3 separate regions of the Homo sapiens genome follow, and all the other regions are reported to be linked to region 3. The links are microRNA targets in miRTarBase. Many come from high-throughput screens and were not tested one by one. Region 3 holds a microRNA gene; each other region holds the end of a gene's coding sequence.

What was found. Region 3 holds the annotated microRNA hsa-miR-188-5p (CAUCCCUUGCAUGGUGGAGGG, at 3,562-3,582, shown strand). A microRNA usually pairs through its seed, bases 2 to 8, with sites in the 3' UTR of a target mRNA and lowers its output. Matches are read on the target gene's strand: a 7mer-m8 pairs with bases 2 to 8, a 7mer-A1 pairs with bases 2 to 7 and ends in A, and an 8mer does both.
Region 1: miRTarBase lists CEMIP as a target of hsa-miR-188-5p. The part of its 3' UTR that is shown has no 7-base or 8-base seed match.
Region 2: miRTarBase lists SOS2 as a target of hsa-miR-188-5p. Seed matches in the 3' UTR shown: 8mer at 2,334-2,341.

What each region holds. Positions count from the first base shown.
Region 1 is chr15:80,946,726-80,953,827 of GRCh38, forward strand. It overlaps CEMIP (cell migration inducing hyaluronidase 1), which reads left to right. Exons shown (of 30, transcript NM_001293298.2): 29 at 240-340; 30 at 2,072-5,046. The coding sequence ends at 2,199. It also overlaps a transcript of MESD not described here. Among named protein-coding and RNA genes, the nearest start is that of MESD, 40 kb to the right of the region's middle. RefSeq lists enhancers at 5,931-6,903, 6,904-7,102.
Region 2 is chr14:50,113,267-50,120,368 of GRCh38, reverse strand. It overlaps SOS2 (SOS Ras/Rho guanine nucleotide exchange factor 2), which reads left to right. Exons shown (of 23, transcript NM_006939.4): 22 at 1-94; 23 at 1,516-3,239. The coding sequence ends at 2,025. VCPKMT (valosin containing protein lysine methyltransferase) reads left to right here and starts at 3,797. Exons shown (of 6, transcript NM_024558.3): 1 at 3,797-4,082; 2 at 4,190-4,300; 3 at 4,458-4,530; 4 at 5,965-6,084. The coding sequence starts at 3,817. RefSeq lists an enhancer at 3,801-3,860.
Region 3 is chrX:49,999,956-50,007,057 of GRCh38, forward strand. It overlaps MIR188 (microRNA 188), which reads left to right and starts at 3,548; the gene lies at 3,548-3,633. All of the region lies in intron 3 of CLCN5 (chloride voltage-gated channel 5), which reads left to right. MIR532 (microRNA 532) reads left to right here and starts at 3,193; the gene lies at 3,193-3,283.

The DNA.
Region 1 (7,102 bases), not on the chromosome of region 3:
GAAGGCTGTGGGCACCAACTGTGGCCAGATGTGTGGGAGGGAGCTCAGGATGTTCGTCACCACATGGAAAGAGCCCGTCAGCTCAGAACACAGGAGAGGCTGCCCTTTCCCGAATCCCTGGACAGGCCTCTGGGCACTGCTAACTCCAGTCCCACCATGCACAAACCAACATCCCTCCCCATGCCCACTTTCTCCAGTTTGCTCTCTCCCTCTGGTCTAATTGGTTTCTTCTCACACAGTTCCATAGTGCTTATGGCATCAAAGGGAAGATACGTCTCCAGAGGCCCATGGACCAGAGTGCTGGAAAAGCTTGGGGCAGACAGGGGTCTCAAGTTGAAAGGTAAGGGTTTGAACTGGGGTTTAAACTGACCCCAAAACCAGAGAAGGCAAATGCCTGGCATGGAGGGTGCTGTCATCTTTTGCTGAGTTGAGAACATGCTTTGTACTAAACGTGGGTACAACCTAAGAATCCCCCACACAACTAGTGGTCTACTGGAATGGATGGGCAAGATGCCACCTGTTTACCACCCCTGCACTGCAGCAAATTTATTATAACTTGCCACCAGCCACTGAAAGAAAATTGCTATATTTGTTGACTCATTTGCTTGGAAAGTGGCCCTTTATTCAACAAAAGTATCATAAGAAAAGTGGCTTAGTCTCACCCTCCTACCCAATTCCTGCTATTCAGACTGGCCAGGGGTCCTGCATCTTCTTCAACATTCTAGCTGATGCCTAGCGTTTGTACAGTCCTTTGCAGCTTGCAAAACTCTTATTTGTTCCAGAAAACTAAAGCCCAGAGAACCTACATGGCTTGTCCAAGGCCAGGCAGCTTCGGTGGTGAAGCCTAGCACAGGCTTGCTGGCTGTGCTGGAAGAAGCCATCCAGGAGGGACATGTCAGCATGACACCCATTATCATCACAAAAACTAGGTGCAGGGAGAGTCCTCAGAGAGGCTGTATGGGCGGCAGAGAAGCTCCACGGGCAATAATGATAATGATCATTGTGGTTGCTATTCAATGTTCAGCCTTGCACTTTGCACAACATGTTATAATTATCTCACTTACTCATTAATAACCTGTGCAGCAGGTACTATTATTTCCATTTAAGATGAGGACACCAAGAATTTAACAGCCAAGCCACTTGCTTAAGGTTAGGACTTGGATCCTAATCTTCCTAACTCAAAGCTGGGCTTCTTAGTTATACACCATCCTCACTATGGAAAACATCAAAATCAGAAACCCATCATATGGGGCAATGAGAAAAATCAGAAGCAATGCAAACCCTTCAAACCAGCCAAAGGAGGACATAAGGAAAAGAGAAGTATCCTTTCCAGCCCAGTCCTGAAATCATTTTGGAGCCTCTGTCTTTTAAATTAAGATCCCGGTTGCCAAAAGCTGATGTATGTAAGGTGACCTAAGTTGAATGGCACTTTCCCGGTGGTGATAAATGCATGTTGCCTGCCAAGATGGGCTGAGTATAGACGTGGATTCCCATGCCCCTCGGATGCTCAAGCTGTGAACTGCAAGATGGAGAGTGCTGTGTGGGTTTCAGGGGTTTAGAGTTCTAATCTGGGGTGCACCATTTACTCCACACTCTTGGTCAAATTTCTTCACCTCTCAGAACTCTTTCTAGAGCCACAGAGTGATAGAGTGGGGAAGGAGATCTTGTAGATCAATGCCATCATTTGATGGATGGGAACACTGGGCTTCAGAGAGGGGCAGGGACTTGCTGGTTGTCCTAGGGGCAGCTCAAAGGTAGGCAGGTTCCTAGGAGGTCTCCTCCCTTACAGTTTGCCCCATTTCCTGCTGTGCATGGCTCCCCTGTCTACAACAAAGCCATCACCCTGCCTAGGTGGCAGTGAGGCTCAGGTGAGACCCTGCCTGCCCCATACAAACACATGTCAGGCACCATCAGTAGCTGAGCACAGAGCTCTTCCCAAGGGGCCACAGTGCAGTGTGGCTAGGCGGTACCTGGTGGGCGTGGGGGGCTGGCGATGGGGAGCCATGGAACGGGGTGGGGCAGCCGTCCTCTCATAGGGCTTTTGCTCAGGAGACTCATCATTGCTTTTCAGAGCAAATGGCATTCGTTGGCTTCAAAGGCAGCTTCCGGCCCATCTGGGTGACACTGGACACTGAGGATCACAAAGCCAAAATCTTCCAAGTTGTGCCCATCCCTGTGGTGAAGAAGAAGAAGTTGTGAGGACAGCTGCCGCCCGGTGCCACCTCGTGGTAGACTATGACGGTGACTCTTGGCAGCAGACCAGTGGGGGATGGCTGGGTCCCCCAGCCCCTGCCAGCAGCTGCCTGGGAAGGCCGTGTTTCAGCCCTGATGGGCCAAGGGAAGGCTATCAGAGACCCTGGTGCTGCCACCTGCCCCTACTCAAGTGTCTACCTGGAGCCCCTGGGGCGGTGCTGGCCAATGCTGGAAACATTCACTTTCCTGCAGCCTCTTGGGTGCTTCTCTCCTATCTGTGCCTCTTCAGTGGGGGTTTGGGGACCATATCAGGAGACCTGGGTTGTGCTGACAGCAAAGATCCACTTTGGCAGGAGCCCTGACCCAGCTAGGAGGTAGTCTGGAGGGCTGGTCATTCACAGATCCCCATGGTCTTCAGCAGACAAGTGAGGGTGGTAAATGTAGGAGAAAGAGCCTTGGCCTTAAGGAAATCTTTACTCCTGTAAGCAAGAGCCAACCTCACAGGATTAGGAGCTGGGGTAGAACTGGCTATCCTTGGGGAAGAGGCAAGCCCTGCCTCTGGCCGTGTCCACCTTTCAGGAGACTTTGAGTGGCAGGTTTGGACTTGGACTAGATGACTCTCAAAGGCCCTTTTAGTTCTGAGATTCCAGAAATCTGCTGCATTTCACATGGTACCTGGAACCCAACAGTTCATGGATATCCACTGATATCCATGATGCTGGGTGCCCCAGCGCACACGGGATGGAGAGGTGAGAACTAATGCCTAGCTTGAGGGGTCTGCAGTCCAGTAGGGCAGGCAGTCAGGTCCATGTGCACTGCAATGCCAGGTGGAGAAATCACAGAGAGGTAAAATGGAGGCCAGTGCCATTTCAGAGGGGAGGCTCAGGAAGGCTTCTTGCTTACAGGAATGAAGGCTGGGGGCATTTTGCTGGGGGGAGATGAGGCAGCCTCTGGAATGGCTCAGGGATTCAGCCCTCCCTGCCGCTGCCTGCTGAAGCTGGTGACTACGGGGTCGCCCTTTGCTCACGTCTCTCTGGCCCACTCATGATGGAGAAGTGTGGTCAGAGGGGAGCAATGGGCTTTGCTGCTTATGAGCACAGAGGAATTCAGTCCCCAGGCAGCCCTGCCTCTGACTCCAAGAGGGTGAAGTCCACAGAAGTGAGCTCCTGCCTTAGGGCCTCATTTGCTCTTCATCCAGGGAACTGAGCACAGGGGGCCTCCAGGAGACCCTAGATGTGCTCGTACTCCCTCGGCCTGGGATTTCAGAGCTGGAAATATAGAAAATATCTAGCCCAAAGCCTTCATTTTAACAGATGGGGAAAGTGAGCCCCCAAGATGGGAAAGAACCACACAGCTAAGGGAGGGCCTGGGGAGCCCCACCCTAGCCCTTGCTGCCACACCACATTGCCTCAACAACCGGCCCCAGAGTGCCCAGGCACTCCTGAGGTAGCTTCTGGAAATGGGGACAAGTCCCCTCGAAGGAAAGGAAATGACTAGAGTAGAATGACAGCTAGCAGATCTCTTCCCTCCTGCTCCCAGCGCACACAAACCCGCCCTCCCCTTGGTGTTGGCGGTCCCTGTGGCCTTCACTTTGTTCACTACCTGTCAGCCCAGCCTGGGTGCACAGTAGCTGCAACTCCCCATTGGTGCTACCTGGCTCTCCTGTCTCTGCAGCTCTACAGGTGAGGCCCAGCAGAGGGAGTAGGGCTCGCCATGTTTCTGGTGAGCCAATTTGGCTGATCTTGGGTGTCTGAACAGCTATTGGGTCCACCCCAGTCCCTTTCAGCTGCTGCTTAATGCCCTGCTCTCTCCCTGGCCCACCTTATAGAGAGCCCAAAGAGCTCCTGTAAGAGGGAGAACTCTATCTGTGGTTTATAATCTTGCACGAGGCACCAGAGTCTCCCTGGGTCTTGTGATGAACTACATTTATCCCCTTTCCTGCCCCAACCACAAACTCTTTCCTTCAAAGAGGGCCTGCCTGGCTCCCTCCACCCAACTGCACCCATGAGACTCGGTCCAAGAGTCCATTCCCCAGGTGGGAGCCAACTGTCAGGGAGGTCTTTCCCACCAAACATCTTTCAGCTGCTGGGAGGTGACCATAGGGCTCTGCTTTTAAAGATATGGCTGCTTCAAAGGCCAGAGTCACAGGAAGGACTTCTTCCAGGGAGATTAGTGGTGATGGAGAGGAGAGTTAAAATGACCTCATGTCCTTCTTGTCCACGGTTTTGTTGAGTTTTCACTCTTCTAATGCAAGGGTCTCACACTGTGAACCACTTAGGATGTGATCACTTTCAGGTGGCCAGGAATGTTGAATGTCTTTGGCTCAGTTCATTTAAAAAAGATATCTATTTGAAAGTTCTCAGAGTTGTACATATGTTTCACAGTACAGGATCTGTACATAAAAGTTTCTTTCCTAAACCATTCACCAAGAGCCAATATCTAGGCATTTTCTTGGTAGCACAAATTTTCTTATTGCTTAGAAAATTGTCCTCCTTGTTATTTCTGTTTGTAAGACTTAAGTGAGTTAGGTCTTTAAGGAAAGCAACGCTCCTCTGAAATGCTTGTCTTTTTTCTGTTGCCGAAATAGCTGGTCCTTTTTCGGGAGTTAGATGTATAGAGTGTTTGTATGTAAACATTTCTTGTAGGCATCACCATGAACAAAGATATATTTTCTATTTATTTATTATATGTGCACTTCAAGAAGTCACTGTCAGAGAAATAAAGAATTGTCTTAAATGTCATGATTGGAGATGTCCTTTGCATTGCTTGGAAGGGGTGTACCTAGAGCCAAGGAAATTGGCTCTGGTTTGGAAAAATTTTGCTGTTATTATAGTAAACATACAAAGGATGTCATCATCTTGTCTGTTTGTTTCATTTTCTATTAAAATGGGCTTCATTTTATCTAGGGATAATAACTTATCTAAGGATAACCTAAGATAAACAGTTATCTAAGGATAATAAGGCTGATGAAATCACCCCATGTGTCTGCCTTACTTCCATGGCCTTATTCCCAAGAGCTAGTCATATGTCAAGATCCTACCTTGCCTTGCCCCAAGGCGGGGTGTCCATAAGAGCAGGTGGAGATGGTTCAAAGAAAGAGAAGATATCATTCATATGGCTGGCCATGTCCAGAACTTGCTGCGTCCTCCACATTTCTAAGCTGTCAGGAGGCTGTCACTTCAACTCCCCTCCCCGATGGGGAAGCCAGGCAGAAGCAGGACTCTCTTTTCCTCCCAGGCCCTGTTTGGCTGGAGGCCAAACACGTTTGACAAGAGCATGGGGGCTGAGGTGGGAAAAACAGGTCCAAATCAAACTGGCAGACGAGAGGCAGGCACAGGTAGAGGGCACCTCAGGCAGCACTGGAAGGGGCTCAGGGGTCTGGAAGGGAGAGAGTGAGAGGCAGAGGTTAGAGCAGGTGAACTGGGAGTGGTCCAGAACTGCCAGTCCAGGAGGGCAGCCACTAGCTTCATGGGGCTACCTACATTTAAATTAATTTAAATTAAATGCAATTAAAAATGCAGTTCCTCAATCACATTGGCCACAATTTTCAAGTGCTCAATGGCTATGTGTGTCTAGTGGCTACCATATAGGATAGAGTCGATATAAAACATTTCCATCACCACAGAGAGTTCTTCTCTTGATTTCCAAAGAGCTCCTGGGTCTTATGCATTGGGTTTAAAAACAAAACAACTATGTCTCGTGTGTGTGTGTGTGTGTGTGTATGTCTCTCTGTCTGTCTGTCTGTGTGCATCTGTGTATAGTCAATTCACTTAAAGGGGCTGGTACCAGATTGGTCGTTTTAAGCTGCCAATACACAAATATATCTGGCAGACTAGCTTTGGGCATAAAGTCAGCTGTGCAGTAGAGAGTACACGGCCTCTACCTTCAGGAAACTTTGCCAGGAGAAAGAGATCACACTTGCACACTCAGTCAACAAATATTTTTGCACCCCTGCTCTGTGCCAGGCACGGTGCACACAGAGGAACACAGAATGACCCCATGGAGAACATGAAATTACCTGCCCAATGAGTGGTGTGGCAGGCTTCTGAGGGCAGGGAGTGATCATCGCCTGGATTGGTCAGGGAAGGTCAGTGAGTGGAAGTAGGACAGGTGTTGGCCTGAGAGTCAGAGATGGATAAGAGAAGGGCCTTTTGTAAGAGGCAGAGTCTGACAGAGGGGCAGCTATCAGAGTGTGGGCTTGAGAACACCTGGGCATAAATCAAGGCTCAGTCATGAGAGGCAAAGTGGAAGGTGGGTTGGGCCAAACACAGGGTCAGCTTTAGGGCCCACTGGCTGTGATGAAAGAGGGTGGGGGGTTACTAGTGACTTCTCAGCCAGAAGTGTCACTGTGTGAAAGAGAGCACAGCCCACTGATTCAGTAGGTGCATAGAAGAGGCATCCAGGGAGGACTTGGAAAGCAGACGCCAACGAGGAACCGTCGAGCAATGGGACACTGCACCCAGCTAGACGCACAGCAAAAGAAGCCACAGAGAGGTTGGGGTGGAGGGACAGGCAGGCACTTCAGGGTCCTTCATTTGTCCCTGCAATAGTCACCAGATCCCACAAGTAGTCACTGCAATGCATTAGGTGACCAGTGGGCACCTTCCGTTCCTGTCCGCAGGGAGACAGACAGGATGATCTGCTCTCCCTCACCAGCCTGGGAGGGGACAGGTCAGAAAAGTGTGGCAGAGTTAAGTTTTGCAGAATGCATAGGAATGAACTAAGTGAAGAAGGGCAAAGAACATTCCTGGTGAGGGAATGGTGCTGGGAAGGCCTGGAGGCGATGTGTAGGAGTTGCTGGAGGAAAGGGGGTGGGGTTCCTCCCCACAGACAGGAGGGGTGAAGGCATGGGCGTTCACTCATGGAGGCTGGGGTGGCCTTAGAGGTCAGTGCAGTGACAGCTAACAAC
Region 2 (7,102 bases), not on the chromosome of region 3:
ATGTGGTAGTTTACATAAACTAAGTGAAGAGCCCCTGATTCCTCCTCCTCTTCCTCCTCGAAAAAAGTTTGATCATGATGCTTCAAATTCCAAGGTAATCAACAGGACTTTACTCCAACTTATTCAAAGTTGTGAATCTTCAAAATAATGCCTAGTGTTATAAAGAGTCTGTGAATTATACTTTGGCTACCATTTATGGTTTTTCAGCATTTGGGTTGTTATATTTGAAAAATACTTTTAGTTGTTTAATCCTTATAAAAACCTTTTCTAAATAAGAGGCTGGGCCGGGCGCAGTGGCTCATGCCAGGCGGGTAGATCACCTGAGATCAGGAGTTCGAGACCAGCCTGGTCAACATGATGAAACCCCATCTCTACTAAAAATACAAAAAATTAGCTGGGTGTGGTGGCGGGTGCCTGTGATTCCAGCTACTGGGGAGGCTGAGGCAGGAGAAGCGCTTGAACCTGGGAGTTGGAGGTTGCAGTGAGCCAGGATCGTGCCACTGCACTCCAGTCTGGGCAACAATTGCAAAACTCTTGTCTCAAAAAAAAAAAAAAAAAAAAAAAAGGCTGGTTGGGAGGCTGAGGCAGGCAGATCATCTGAAGTCAGGAGTTCAAGACCAGCCTGGCCAATATGGTGAAACCCTGTCTCTACTAAAAATACAAAAATTAGCCGGGCATGGTGGCGGGCACCTGTAATCCCAGCTACTCAAGAGGCTAAGGCAGGAGAATCACTTGAACCTGGGAGGTGAAGGTAGGTTGCAGTGAGCCAAGATCGCACCATTGCACTCCAGCCTGGGCGACAGAGCAAGACTCTGTCTCAAAAACTAAAAATAAAAATAAAAAAATAAAAAAGAGGCTGGAAGTACATTTTCTTTCTGGTACAGGTGGAAAAAAACTTCAGTAGTATTCCAAGTATTCTTCAAACTTTCAACTAATGCTTCTCAAAATTTTAAGGGTGCATCAGAATTACCTGAAAGGCTTGGTAAAATCAGACTGTGGAGCCACACCTCCAGAGTTTCTGATTCAGTAGTCTAGGATGGGGCCCAAGAATTTGCTTTTCTAACAAGTTCCCTACTGATGCTGATGTTGTTGGTCTCTGGATCACACTTTGAGATCTACTGCTCTAAGCCTCACTGGAGAAAGTAGCAGTAGATGCCCAGTAAGCAGAAGCTAGACATTAAAGTCCTCTAGACATCATGTCCTTTCATGTCTATAAAGCAATAAATTATTGTCACTTACCTACTATTATAATTAAAATACATAAATTTCTGAAATGTATACACAAAGCAAGATAAAGAGTTAGGACCTAAGACTTAAATTAAAACATCTCATATATAAAAATATTAAACCCAGCCCTGAATTAATCTAGGAGTACTCATAATCTGATAATTAACCCAGATTAGTTTATTTTGAGCCTCTGAATTTAACTTGACAAGTAAGAATTTTTCAGACTTAAAAATTTTTTTTTTTAATTTTTCAGAATAGAGGTATAATTTAATTACTTTTTTTTTTGAGGGAAATATGAAATCTGATGATGATCCTCCTGCTATTCCACCGAGACAGCCTCCTCCTCCAAAGGTAAAACCCAGAGTTCCTGTTCCTACTGGTGCATTTGATGGGCCTCTGCATAGTCCACCTCCGCCACCACCAAGAGATCCTCTTCCTGATACCCCTCCACCAGTTCCCCTTCGGCCTCCAGAACACTTTATAAACTGTCCATTTAATCTTCAGCCACCTCCACTGGGGCATCTTCACAGAGATTCAGACTGGCTCAGAGACATTAGTACGTGTCCAAATTCGCCAAGCACTCCTCCTAGCACACCCTCTCCAAGGGTACCGCGTCGATGCTATGTGCTCAGTTCTAGTCAGAATAATCTTGCTCATCCTCCAGCTCCCCCTGTTCCACCAAGGCAGAATTCAAGCCCTCATCTGCCAAAACTGCCACCAAAGACTTACAAACGGGAGCTTTCGCACCCCCCATTGTACAGACTGCCTTTGCTAGAAAATGCAGAAACTCCCCAATGACCTTAGCCATATGTAGTCATTGACACTGGAATGGTATTTGTAAAGTTTTTTTTTTAATTTATTCAAAAAAAGACATAGTATTTTAGTACTTTTTACAAATAATGCTCTTACAAAAATGCTACTGATCAAATAAGCTTTTAAGAATTGGAAAAATAAAAATACAAAAGTCCTTCACCATTATCCTCAGGTGATCAGTAGCATTGCCTTGTCTTGGATCCTCAGTGCTGCCAAAAGGCCAGTATAAAGAATTTATATTTGCACTGTAAACTCTGCAAAAATATGGTTTAAAGTGACATGATTGCACTGAAAAGGGATAGTGCTTTTGTGAAATTTTTCAAATTTGAGTAATAGATGCCTTTTTAAGGCAGTGAATTTACACAAATATGGGAGGGGTATATGGTGTTACTGATTTTTAAACCTCTTTGACCATCTTCTAGTTTTTACTTCTAGTTTTTACATCTAGGAGAATTGTGAATAACACCAACTGTTCTTAAACTCTTTAATGCCATGTCTTAAATGCCGGTATTTGCTGCTGAAGACAAAAATGAAAAGTAGGATGAAAATAATAGAATGGCACTGTAAGTGTTTATTATTTTGTCAAAATGTAAACAAAGACTACATAACCCAATGATGGAGGGAAAAAGGGCATGTATCTCATTCAGATGTGCCTTTTGTTTTTGCAGACTATGACGTCTTTAGCTAATGAATTGCCTATTGTTATGGAAAACAGTTAATATGCCATGTATGTACAGTTTTGTTTATATTGTATATTTAAAGATACTGCTAATAACCTATATAAATTTAAGTGACTTGAGGCCTATAATACAATCTGCTACTTTACTAATTCATAAATTCAAAAAAAATTCTATGGCATAGGAACCAACTGCCTTGCCTTCAAGACCTAGTAACTTTCTCTATAAATCTCGTGTTAACTGAAATTTTTTTTAAATATATTTTTTAGATTGGTAATATTTAAACCAGCAAATACTTAAAGCTTTATTAAACATTTTAATCAGATAAGTGAGTAAAGCTTTTATTTGCCATTTGGATGCCTTCGTTCAAAGTGATAGAGTGTTTTGCTGATAGTGCTGTAGCAGCAGTTGTAAAGTAGCCAAAAGCCACGTTGTTTATTTACTGGTTTGTGGCCTTTTACTGTGCTTTGTATCAGAGTTCTTAACAAGATTAATAAATCACCCCAGTCTTAATTTTTAAAAGACTTTTAAAATATGTGTTTTCATTATAAGGAACAAAGGGGGAGATTGTTGAGTCCTATAGACACACACACACACACACACAATTTTTTCTTCACTGTTAAATGTGAGCTGCAGGCTTCTAGCAACCACTTTTATGAATTCATACAAAAAACTAGGAGCATACTAGGAACTTGAAAAGGAAGATTGTAAGATTATAGCCATCTTTGGTAGGATCTTGGAAGCTGATTGCATTTAAGCCTTGTAACTACTATGTAAATCAAGTGTCCAACTTGGTAAACTCTGAGGTTGGCTTTGTTTTTTAAAGAGCAGATTATAATAGTTTTGTCTGGGAAAGTGATTTAAACGGCCTCTTCGTTAAGCCAAACGTGTGATTTAGGGTAGAGGGAGGCTGCCAAGCGCGTCGGGTAAGCAGGGGCCCCACGCTCGGCCCCGCCCAGGTAACGCTGCCTTCCGGGCTTTGTTAACTCGCGCGCGCTGCGTCGCCAACTCAGCGGCGGGCAGGGGGCGGAGCCGCAGGGCGGGGCGGTGCGCGTTGATGTGACGTCCCTGCGCGCGCCGCTTTCTGTTGCCGGGCGCAATGGCGGATACGCTGGAGTCCTCGCTGGAGGACCCACTGCGGAGCTTTGTGCGAGTTTTGGAGAAGCGGGATGGTACAGTGCTACGACTACAGCAGTATAGCTCCGGTGGCGTGGGTTGCGTTGTGTGGGACGCTGCCATTGTCCTTTCTAAATACCTGGAAACGCCCGAGTTTTCTGGCGACGGGGCCCACGCGCTGAGCCGGCGGTCGGTGCTGGAGCTGGGTTCGGGCACCGGGGCCGTGGGGCTCATGGCTGCTACCCTCGGGTAAGAGCTGGCGGGCGGGCGGGATGTGGGGGCGCCTTCTTGCTGGGGAAATCCGGATTACAGGCTTTCCCCCCTGTGCCTACACCTCAGTCGACGTTATTTTATAGGGCTGATGTTGTAGTCACCGATCTTGAGGAATTGCAAGACTTGCTGAAGATGAATATTAATATGAACAAGCATCTTGTCACTGGTTCTGTTCAAGCCAAGGTACTGAAATGGTTTGTATGGCCTTTCAGCTTGTTTTAAGATATTGATTTGTAGTTTGTTTTGAATTGCGTTTCATTAAAAGGATGGAAGGGGACTTTCCGGTTCTTTATAAAACAAGAGTATTTTGAATTATTAAAACAATTGAAATATTTGTTTGGCATTTTTAAGGGGGGAAGAAATAGAAGGCTTTCCTTCTCCACCCGACTTCATACTGATGGCCGACTGCATATACTATGAAGAGGTAAGTATCCAGTGAGCGAAGTCTCTTCACTTAGAAGATGAACCTTATTCCATGAATTCTAAAGCACACGTTTCTTCACATTTTAACATCTTTGAATCCGGGATTTGCCTTATAGTTGATGCAGTAAAGAGAAGATAAAAGTCACCAGGGACCATATGTATATACGCTCATCATTATCATACCGACCTGGTGAAGCATGTTGAGAAAAGTGTTATATGCATTTTACTAGAGGCTTCTGTAAAAATTTTAAAGGATTTTGCCAATTGGATGTTATGAAAAGCCAAAATCCTCTCTTTTTCCCTTGGTTGTTCCCACGGAACATGTTAACCATGACATTGAGAATTAAGTTATAAATAATTCATTGTTCTTTTCTTTAAATACCAGTTTGGGCCGGGCGCGGTGGCTCACGCCTGTAATCCCAACACTTGGGAGGTCAAGGCAGGTGGCTCACCTGAGGTCGGGAGTTCGAGACCAGCCTGACCTACATGGCAAAACCCTGTCTCTACTAAAAATACAAAATTAGCCAGGCGTGGTGGTGCATGTCTGTAATCCTAGCTATTTGGGAGTCTGAGGCAGGAGAATCGCTTGAACCTGGGAGGCGGAGGTTGCAGTGAGCCGAAATCATGCCATTGCATTCCAGCCTGGGCAACAAGAGCAAAACTCTGTCTCAAAAAAAAAAAAAAAAAAAAAAAACATCAGTTTGTATAGTGTTGTGGGCATCGATTATTTTAAAAATAATTAGCATTGAACCAAGTTAGGGTCAGATTTAACTTTTGTAGGGAAATCGTTGATTATTTAAATCCCAAATTAGATTAAATAAAATTAAACTTTTAAGAGTAAGGTTGATTCCATTTGTTTCCCATGAGAACTCCAAAATGCAGTCATCTGAATCCTTTTTCTGGAAACCAAAATCAGTACATGGTTTAGTTAACAGGAGCTTACCCAATCATTAGTTACAGAGGGGTTTTTGTTTGTTTGTTTTTGTTTTAAGATAGGGGTCTTGCTCTGTCACACATGTTGTAGTGCAGTGGAGTGATCATAGCTCACTGTAACCTCGAGCTCCTGAGGCTCAAGTAATCCTCCCATTCAGCCTCCTCAATAGCTGGGACTATAGGTGTGCACCAGCATGCTGGCTAATTTTTAAATTTTTTGTAAGGTGTTGCGGGGGGTGGTTTGTCTCTCGCTGTATTCTCCAGGCTGGTCTTCAACTCCTGCTTTCAAGCGATCTTTCCACCTCTGCCTTCCAAAGTGTTGATATTACAGGTGTGAGCCACTGCACCTAGCCTAGAGCTTTAATTACATGTGCTTTGTTGGATTGATTCAAAGATGGATAAATTGTAGGGGAGCTATAAATACCCCTGTACCTCCTCAACCTACTTTTAGAGTAGAAAAATTTTTAAATCAAAAACAAAAAATATATTCTTTTTTAAATAGTCTTTGGAGCCATTGCTGAAAACTCTAAAAGATATCAGCGGATTTGAAACTTGTATTATATGTTGTTATGAACAACGAACAATGGGGAAAAATCCAGAAATTGAGAAAAAATATTTTGAGGTAAGTATTAAGTACTCTATTATCTTTGTAGTGATTTCCCTTCAGGGGGGCTGTATGTGACTCTTCAAGTATATTATGGTAATTTTGGGTGGGGAAAACATGCTGTTTGTGTGAAGCTGAGGAAAGGATCTTCACAGCCCATGATTCTACGAAGCTCCCCTTTTTCATCTTTTCTGATACTTTATTTCATTTCTAATTAGTTGATCTATGGCTACAGAAGAATGTTAATACGGGTGCCACTCCTTTTTAAGAACAGTTTTCAGTGTTTATTAAACATGATGCTGCCTTTGGGGAACATCTCAATGATGTATGTATTACCTTTGGAGAATACGTGATAGAAATGTGCAGGTGATAAGTTGTTTTTGTTTTGAGACAGGGTTTCACCCTGTAGCCCATGCCGGAGTGCAGTGGCACAGTCAGGGCTCACTGCATCCTCAACCTCCTGGGCTCAAGTGATCCTCCTGCCTCAGTGTCACCCCCCCCCCCCCCCGCCCCCAAGTAAGTGGGACTATAGGCATGTACCACCACACCCGGCTAACTTTTTGTATTTTTTTGTAGAGATGGGGTTTTCCCATGTTGCCAAGTGATAAGTTTTTACTTCTGTGTTTTTCTCTACATATTTATGAAACCTCCAACCTAGATACCTGTCTATTTTTAGGGTCTTTTTTTTTGTTTTTTAAACTTTTTGTCTGAAATAGTTAGAAAAGACTTACAGGAAGTTGCAAAATATAGTATATAGGGTTTTATGTATCTGTCACTCTTCTTCCCCTAGTGATCACCCAAACCCTTATATGGGCACAAATCTATCACATTGTGAGTGACTCCTTTTGAGGGTACATCTATATAGGCCTGCAGTTTTGTCTGCTGGAAGGACTACTTTGGTTTAATGAGAAAGCAGGTATATGACTGCCTCAGGTAACAAATACTAAAATGTTTGTTTATTTTCATGTTTTTCTTGAATATGAAAAATGTTCATGAACTTTTGAAATGATGCATAATGAAAATTTCGTACTGTTAA
Region 3 (7,102 bases):
CATCAGTGAGCATTCTTCCTATATCTGCCCTGTCTCTGCTCTCCACTCCCCCAGCTCTCCTGCCCCATGCAGGGGTGCAAGCCTCTCAAGCTATCCCATCCCACCTTGACCACACAGAACTACAGTGAGCTTTTTATTTTAAATATGCTTCCCCAAACCTGTTGGACTGTGGGTTTCCCCATCCGCCTCCTGCTTGCAGCCTCTCTCTCTAATCCTGCTTTTCTCTTTCTTTCTCTCATGTGCATACACTCATGATATGCATGTAAGGGAGACACCTGAGTTGCCCCATTGCATCCAGCATCGCAGGACTGTGAGCCTTCTATTGCTGCCACTCTCCTACCCCACGCATGGCTTAACCTAAAATAAAACTGACCTCCCAATTGGGAGGTTATTACAACCTCCCAATGCACACACTGGCTGGGCCACAGTGGCGTGTGAACCACTGTGTCAGCCACCTTATTACCCCTTTTCTGTGCATGCCCCCACACACATTTATGATAGGAGCTTGAGCCTCCTTATTCTCCATCCTTGCTCTTTCTCTCTTCCTTTTCCTCCCTCATCTCACATGTGTGTGCCAAGGATGTGCCAGAAAGTGGGTCCTTATCATTTTCAGTTCTCATACACATGTGGGTACACACAGCTTTAGGGTTCAGTGGTTAGGCCCACTGTCTTGGTAGTCAGATTACCTGTGGTAGAATCCTGGCGTGATCTGTAATGAGCTTTGTGATCCTAGACAAGTGACTTATCTTGTGTCTCAATTTCCACAACATGAAAATGAGATAACTAATTGTGCCAACCATATAGGTTTGTAATAAGCACTGAAGGAGGCGACGCATGTATTGGGATTAACATGTAATAAACTTCCTTAATCCATATGCTTTGCCTGGAGCAACTGATTCTCCATAGAAGAAAACTCACACCTAAGCTGCTTGGTCCCATTATTTGAAAATGTTTGGGAAGTACTGCCTTGGATGACTGTTTCATAATTCTTTCCTTTCCTCAAATCTGCAGTGTCACCTCCCTTCCTTCCTCCTCACTCTCAGCTGCTGACTTTGCTTTCTTCTTCCTTGAGAAAATGGAAGCCATCAGAAGGGACCCTCTGAAGTTCCTCTGACCTCTCCTCCATTACCTGCACATGTCCCTAAGTGTCAGCTCCTCCCCATTATGGTAGATGAATTACTGGCACATGTAGCCAGGACCAGTTCCTCCACTTGTATACTAGATTTCAACCCCTGTCACCTATTCAGTGACAGTGCTCCTGCAATTGATCCCCCTCTCCTTACTGCATCATCAACTGTTCTTTGTATACTGGAGTGTTTGTACCAATATCTAGATGTGCTGCCACATATCCTGTCTAAAAATAATTTTAAAAATTAAAAAGCACTACCTTCTCTACCCAAAAAGCTCCTCCAGTTTCTACTCATTTCTCTGTTCCTCTTTACAGAAAAAAAAAAAATTTTTTTGAAGGAGCTGATTGTACTCCATCTCTACTTCTATTTCTCCCATTTACTCTTTTTTTTAAATGTATACTTTAAGTTCTAGGGTACATGTGCACAACATGCAGGTTTGTTACATATGCATACATGTGCCATGTTGGTGTGCTGCACCCGTTAACTTGTCATTTACATTAGGTATATCTCCTAATGCTATCCCTCCCCCCTCCCCCCACCCCATGACAGGCCCCGATGTGTGATGTTCCCCTTCCTGTGTCCAAGTGTTCTCATTGTTCAATTCCCACCTATGAGTGAGAACATGTGGTGTTTGGTTTTCTGTCCTTGGATCCCTTCCTTACACCTTATACAAAAATTAATTCAAGATGGATTAAAGACTTAAATGTTAGTCCCATTTACTCTTGAAAACCCTCCATGTAAAACTGTAACCTGCAGCACTTAAATGACCCTGGTCAAGGTCCCCAGTGTCCTTCACATTTCCCAATTTACTGGGCAATGTTGTCATCTTACTTGACAGATCAACACACAGTTGATCACTCCCTCTGCCTTGAGACTCTACCTGCTTTCCAGGATTCCACACTCATGAGGTTGTCTTCTTACCTCACAAGCCTCTCTTTCTCAGTCTCTTGATGGTTTCTCCTCCTCTTCCTGAATTCTAAGTATTAAAGAGATATAGGGCTTAGTCTTCAGACTTCTTTTTTTTTTTTTAACTTCTCATTAGTCCTCAGCTGTTCTCATCTTGTCTTGCAACTCTAAGTACCATTTTATGTGGATGATTTCTGTGTTTGTATTTCCAGCCTGGACTTCTCTCCTGAATTCCAGATGCCTATGTCCAACTATGTACTGGACATCTGCCCCGAATGTCTAATAAGTATCTCAAAACTTTAACACATCCAAAGCTGAGGTCCTGGTTTTCCTCCCCCTCTCAAAAAGCCCTACTCCTCCCTCTGTGTTCTCCAACTCAGCAAACAGCATTTCCCAATTGCATATGCCAAGGATATGGAGAATTTTAATAAGCTAAAGGTTTTGGATTCATCTTTGACACTTTTTCCCCTCCATTCTCCAAATACAAACTGCTGTCAAATCTTGTTGGCTCTACTTTCAAAATACATGTCTAATCTGACCACACAGCCACTTCTCATACTTCTCACTTCCTCTATTATTTCCACACTAATCCAGCTTTTCCCTGGGCTGACAAGTGCAAGTTCTCTTGCGTCTGTCTGTCTGTCTGTCTCTCTGTCTCTGTCTCTGTCTCTGTCTCTCTCTCTCTCTCTCTGTGTGTGTGTGTGTGTGTGTGTGTGTGTGTGTGTGGTGTGTGTGTGGACACAAAGTGGTTGGTGGCTGAGAGCTTGAGCCTCCTTTTTTGAGTCCTCTTTCTAATGACCTGCATGCCAGATTCTAAGCTTTCTTACCATCTGTTCTCGTATGTGTGTTATTTCATCTGTAAAATAGGGATAATGATCACCTCATGGATATTTTATGAGAATAAATGAGCTATGTGTGAAAAGCACTTAAAACAGTGCTCTGCAAATGTAAATACTATACTGGTGTTAGGAATAAAAATAAAGGAAAAGAAAGAAGGAAGGAAAACAAATATGTTGTAGATAGTGAACATTTCTGAAGGTACATATGTGAATGTACACAAGCACACCTTCTCATTACAGCATGTCTGGGGCACAGTCATAGAAGTCCAAGGCATCTGGGATACGCATGCACACAGTATACAGGAGAGCAGACCTCCCGACTTGCTTTCTCTCCTCCATGCCTTGAGTGTAGGACCGTTGGCATCTTAATTACCCTCCCACACCCAAGGCTTGCAGAAGAGCGAGCCTTCTCTTCCCTCTCCAGTGCATAGGCATGAGCACATGGACAGGTACACCAAAGGGAGGTAGACCCTCTCTTACGTGCTCTGTATGTGGGGTACACTGTTAGCAGCCATCCCATCTGGATGACTGTCCTGCTTCCATGGCCACTGCTCCTAGTTTACCCATCAGCACTCCTGTGGCTATCTTGCTGCCCACTTGCACCCCCCAGGCCAGTGCCTCTTGCCTCCTAGAGCATACCCATATGTCGTGCCAAGAGAGCAAGCCCTTCCCTGCTCCCTCTCTCACATCCCTTGCATGGTGGAGGGTGAGCTTTCTGAAAACCCCTCCCACATGCAGGGTTTGCAGGATGGCGAGCCTCAGCTTTCCTTGCTCTCTTGTGCATGTGTATATACACATACGCACTCCTTCACCAAAAGAAAAACACACACCCATGTGGTGGGAAGGAGAATGACTCTCAGCCATGTCCTTTCTCCCATCTCAGTCTTACATGGATCCTGCAGGAGAGGGAGACTTCTCTTAGCTTTCTCTTGCACATGGTGCAGCCCCTCATACTCAGGGATAGGCACAGCCTAGAGAAGGAAGGGGGGTCTTTTGACCTGGTTCTGTCTTAGCGGCACCTAGAGGAGGAGAGAGAACCTTCTCAGGACTCCTGTACATGGGGCATGATGAAAAGGGAGTCTTCTAGCTAATTCTCACAAACCCAGTTTGTGAGGAAAATTGTGTCTATATCATAACCATATGCAAAGATGTAATATGCACACACATTTTGGGTTCAGAAAGTAGAATCCACTCACTGTGCCATGCCTTTCCATATGCACACTTGTTTGCTCAAGAGGGTGTGTGAAGATCTGTCTTCTTAGACACTCATGTAGATATGAGTCAGATTGTGAGTTTTCTCTGTTATCTCCCCAGACCCAGGATTTGCAGCCGATTCATTTGGTGAGCCACTCATTCATTCAGCAAATATTTATCGAGCAGCTACTGTGTGTTGGGTACTCCCCTATGCACCAGGGATACACCAGTGACCAAAAGACAAGAATCCCTGCCCTAGTGAGGGGAGGCAGGTAGTGAACAAAATAAGTAAGTAATAGATAGTGTGCCAATTGTTGATAAGTGCTCTGGAGAATAATAAGGCAGGAAAAGGGGACAAGGAGTGGGTGGGGGTAGTTACAGCATAGATGGTGGTGGAGAAGTTTCGATATCAAATAGGGTAGTCAGGAAAGGCCTACTGTGTTCTAGGAACAACAAAGAGCCATTGTGGCAGAAGCATAGGGCTGGGAAGTAGTAAGTTACAATGGAAAAAGGGAAAGCTGATAATTACTATGTATCTCTAAAATCTAAGGCCGCTTTTAAAAAAAAAATCATACCATTATCACACTTAAAAATAATTACCATCCAGGCACAGGGGCTCATGCCTGTAATCTCAGCACTTTGTGGGAGGCTAAGGTAGGCAGATCACCTGAGGTTAGGAATTCAAGACCAGCCTGGCCAACATGGTGAAACCCCGTCTCTACTAAAAATACAAAAATTAGTCAGGCCTGGTGGCAGGTGCCTGTAATCCCAGCTACTCGGGAGGCTGAGGCAGGAGAATCGCTTGAACCCGGGAGGCGGAGGTTGCAGTGAGCCAAGATCGTGCCACTGCGCTCCAGCCTGGGTGACAAGAGCGAGGCTTCATCTCAAAAAGAAAAAAAATTGCCAACAATTTTTTAATATCATCACATATCTGTTGTTCCCATTTCCACTTGTCTCAGAAATATCATAAATTAGGATCCAGATAAGGTCCATGCATTGCATTTGGTTGATATGTATCTTAAGTCCCTTTGAATTATATCTTTCCCTTCCATCTATATTTTTTCTTTCCTTATAATTTATTTGTTGGAAGAAAGTGGGCCATTCATCCTATACAGTTTTGCATAGTCTGGATTTTTGTGATCACATCCCTGTGATGTAGTTTACATGTTCCTTCTCCTTGTTTGTATTTCCTGTAAACTGATAGTTGCATCTGGAAGCCTGATCAAATTCAGGCTTAATTTTGAGGAAGGGGGAGCAGAACTACTTCCATTAAGAGGCACAAAATAACTGATGATCATCTTTCTGTGATGTTAGTTGCCACCGATGCTCAATTCTTAGAGCCGTTATTTCATTAGGGGTTGCAAAATGATGATATTCTAATCCCATTATTCTCTTGATTTATTAGCTGGAATACTTCTATAAAGAAAAACTTCCCTTCATCTGCTATTTGATCACCCAGTGTTGCCGTCTTTATAGGCAAGATAGGATAAATGTTTGGTTCTCTTTATTTATCAGTACTCAGAATAATGAGTTGGTTCACTAGCTTACTCTAAAGAGGATTTTTTAAAAAAACTATTATAATAAACTCATAGATTTAAATATATTTGGACTTTTAATCCATTGCAGTTCTTGCCTTCAGTGAAGCTCCAGTGCCCCATCTTTAGCCAGTAGGAGCTTCTTCAAATTGGTTCCTCAGTCCTTTTGACATGCCTCCGTAGTTATCTGATAGCTTCTCCGCTTTCAGAGATGAAAAAAATGTACAAAGCTCATCGCAGATACCTTCCCCAGGCCTGGAATCTGCCATGTCTTCAAGAAGCCCTGGTTTCTTTTAATCAGACATGATATTTAAAGACCATATTTGCCTCTGGATTGGTCATTGTATTTAGGCTTCTACAATGATCAGAACAGAAAAATGTTTTGTTTTTGTGTTTTCTTGTTTCTAGATAAATACATCATGATTCCATTATACTTCTGATTCAAAATCAGGATTACAGTTTTCTGTGTCTTTGCTTCACAAGTATGGTTCTGACTGTTGTATGGCAAATAGGAGGAGAAAGTGCAGAAACTGGGAGACCAGTTAGGAGGCCATTGAAATAATTCAGTTGAGAGATGGATGGAGGCCTACATCAGGGTGATCGTGGTGAAGGTAGTAAAAAGTGGTTATATTTTAAAGTTACAGCCAGTTGAGTTTACTGATACATTGCATGTGAAGTGTGAGAGAAAGAGGAGTAGGAGACTGAGCCCTCTCTTCCCTCTTTGTCACATATGAGTTGGGTACATATGCTGACACTGCCTCTTTAATCTGTAGCATCCGCATGCAAGTGCTGTCCCAGTGCAGTACACCTGGGCTAGGACTCACAGATGGTATGTTATGCACAGAGCAGAGAGTGCCTGTCACCTCTCCTAGTTCCTTTCAGAGAGCTTTTTGAATGCCTGTTGGATTTGGGGATCCAATAGTGGCAAGAGCATCAGGGACCCTGGTTTTACTGTGGGGTGAGCTTGTGCCAGAGAACACAGTTCATCATTCCCATTCAGCCTGCCTTCATGTGTTCAAGGGGCTGGAAAAGGGGAGCTTTTTCTTTCCTAACTCCCATGCTATCCTTGGGGTACAGGTGCCTGAGCCTTCTCATTTGCTCCTTCTCTTTAATCCTTGATACTGGTACTAGTGCTCTCCACATGCAATGCACCTTGGCAGGGATTCAGATGGGGTGAGCCTTAGCTGCAGATGGAAGGACAGAGCCCTTGTACATCGCCTACCTCTCCTGCTGCCTGCCAGTATTATTTACTCCTGTAGGGAGCCAGAAGAGAACAGTACAGCCACAGTCCCCTGAGTGTACTGCCTAGCTAGCACATATAGGAGGATAAAGCTCATTTGTACTCACTGTGCAGGTGTGCACACATGCTGGGGATACTGGAGAATGAATTTACTTTAGTTCCCACCCCCCAAGCACCCCACCTTGTCCCCCAGGATGGTCAGGCATCTAGGGATGTAGACCTGTATACACGGAGTCCCACTGATCAGGTAAGCAGTGG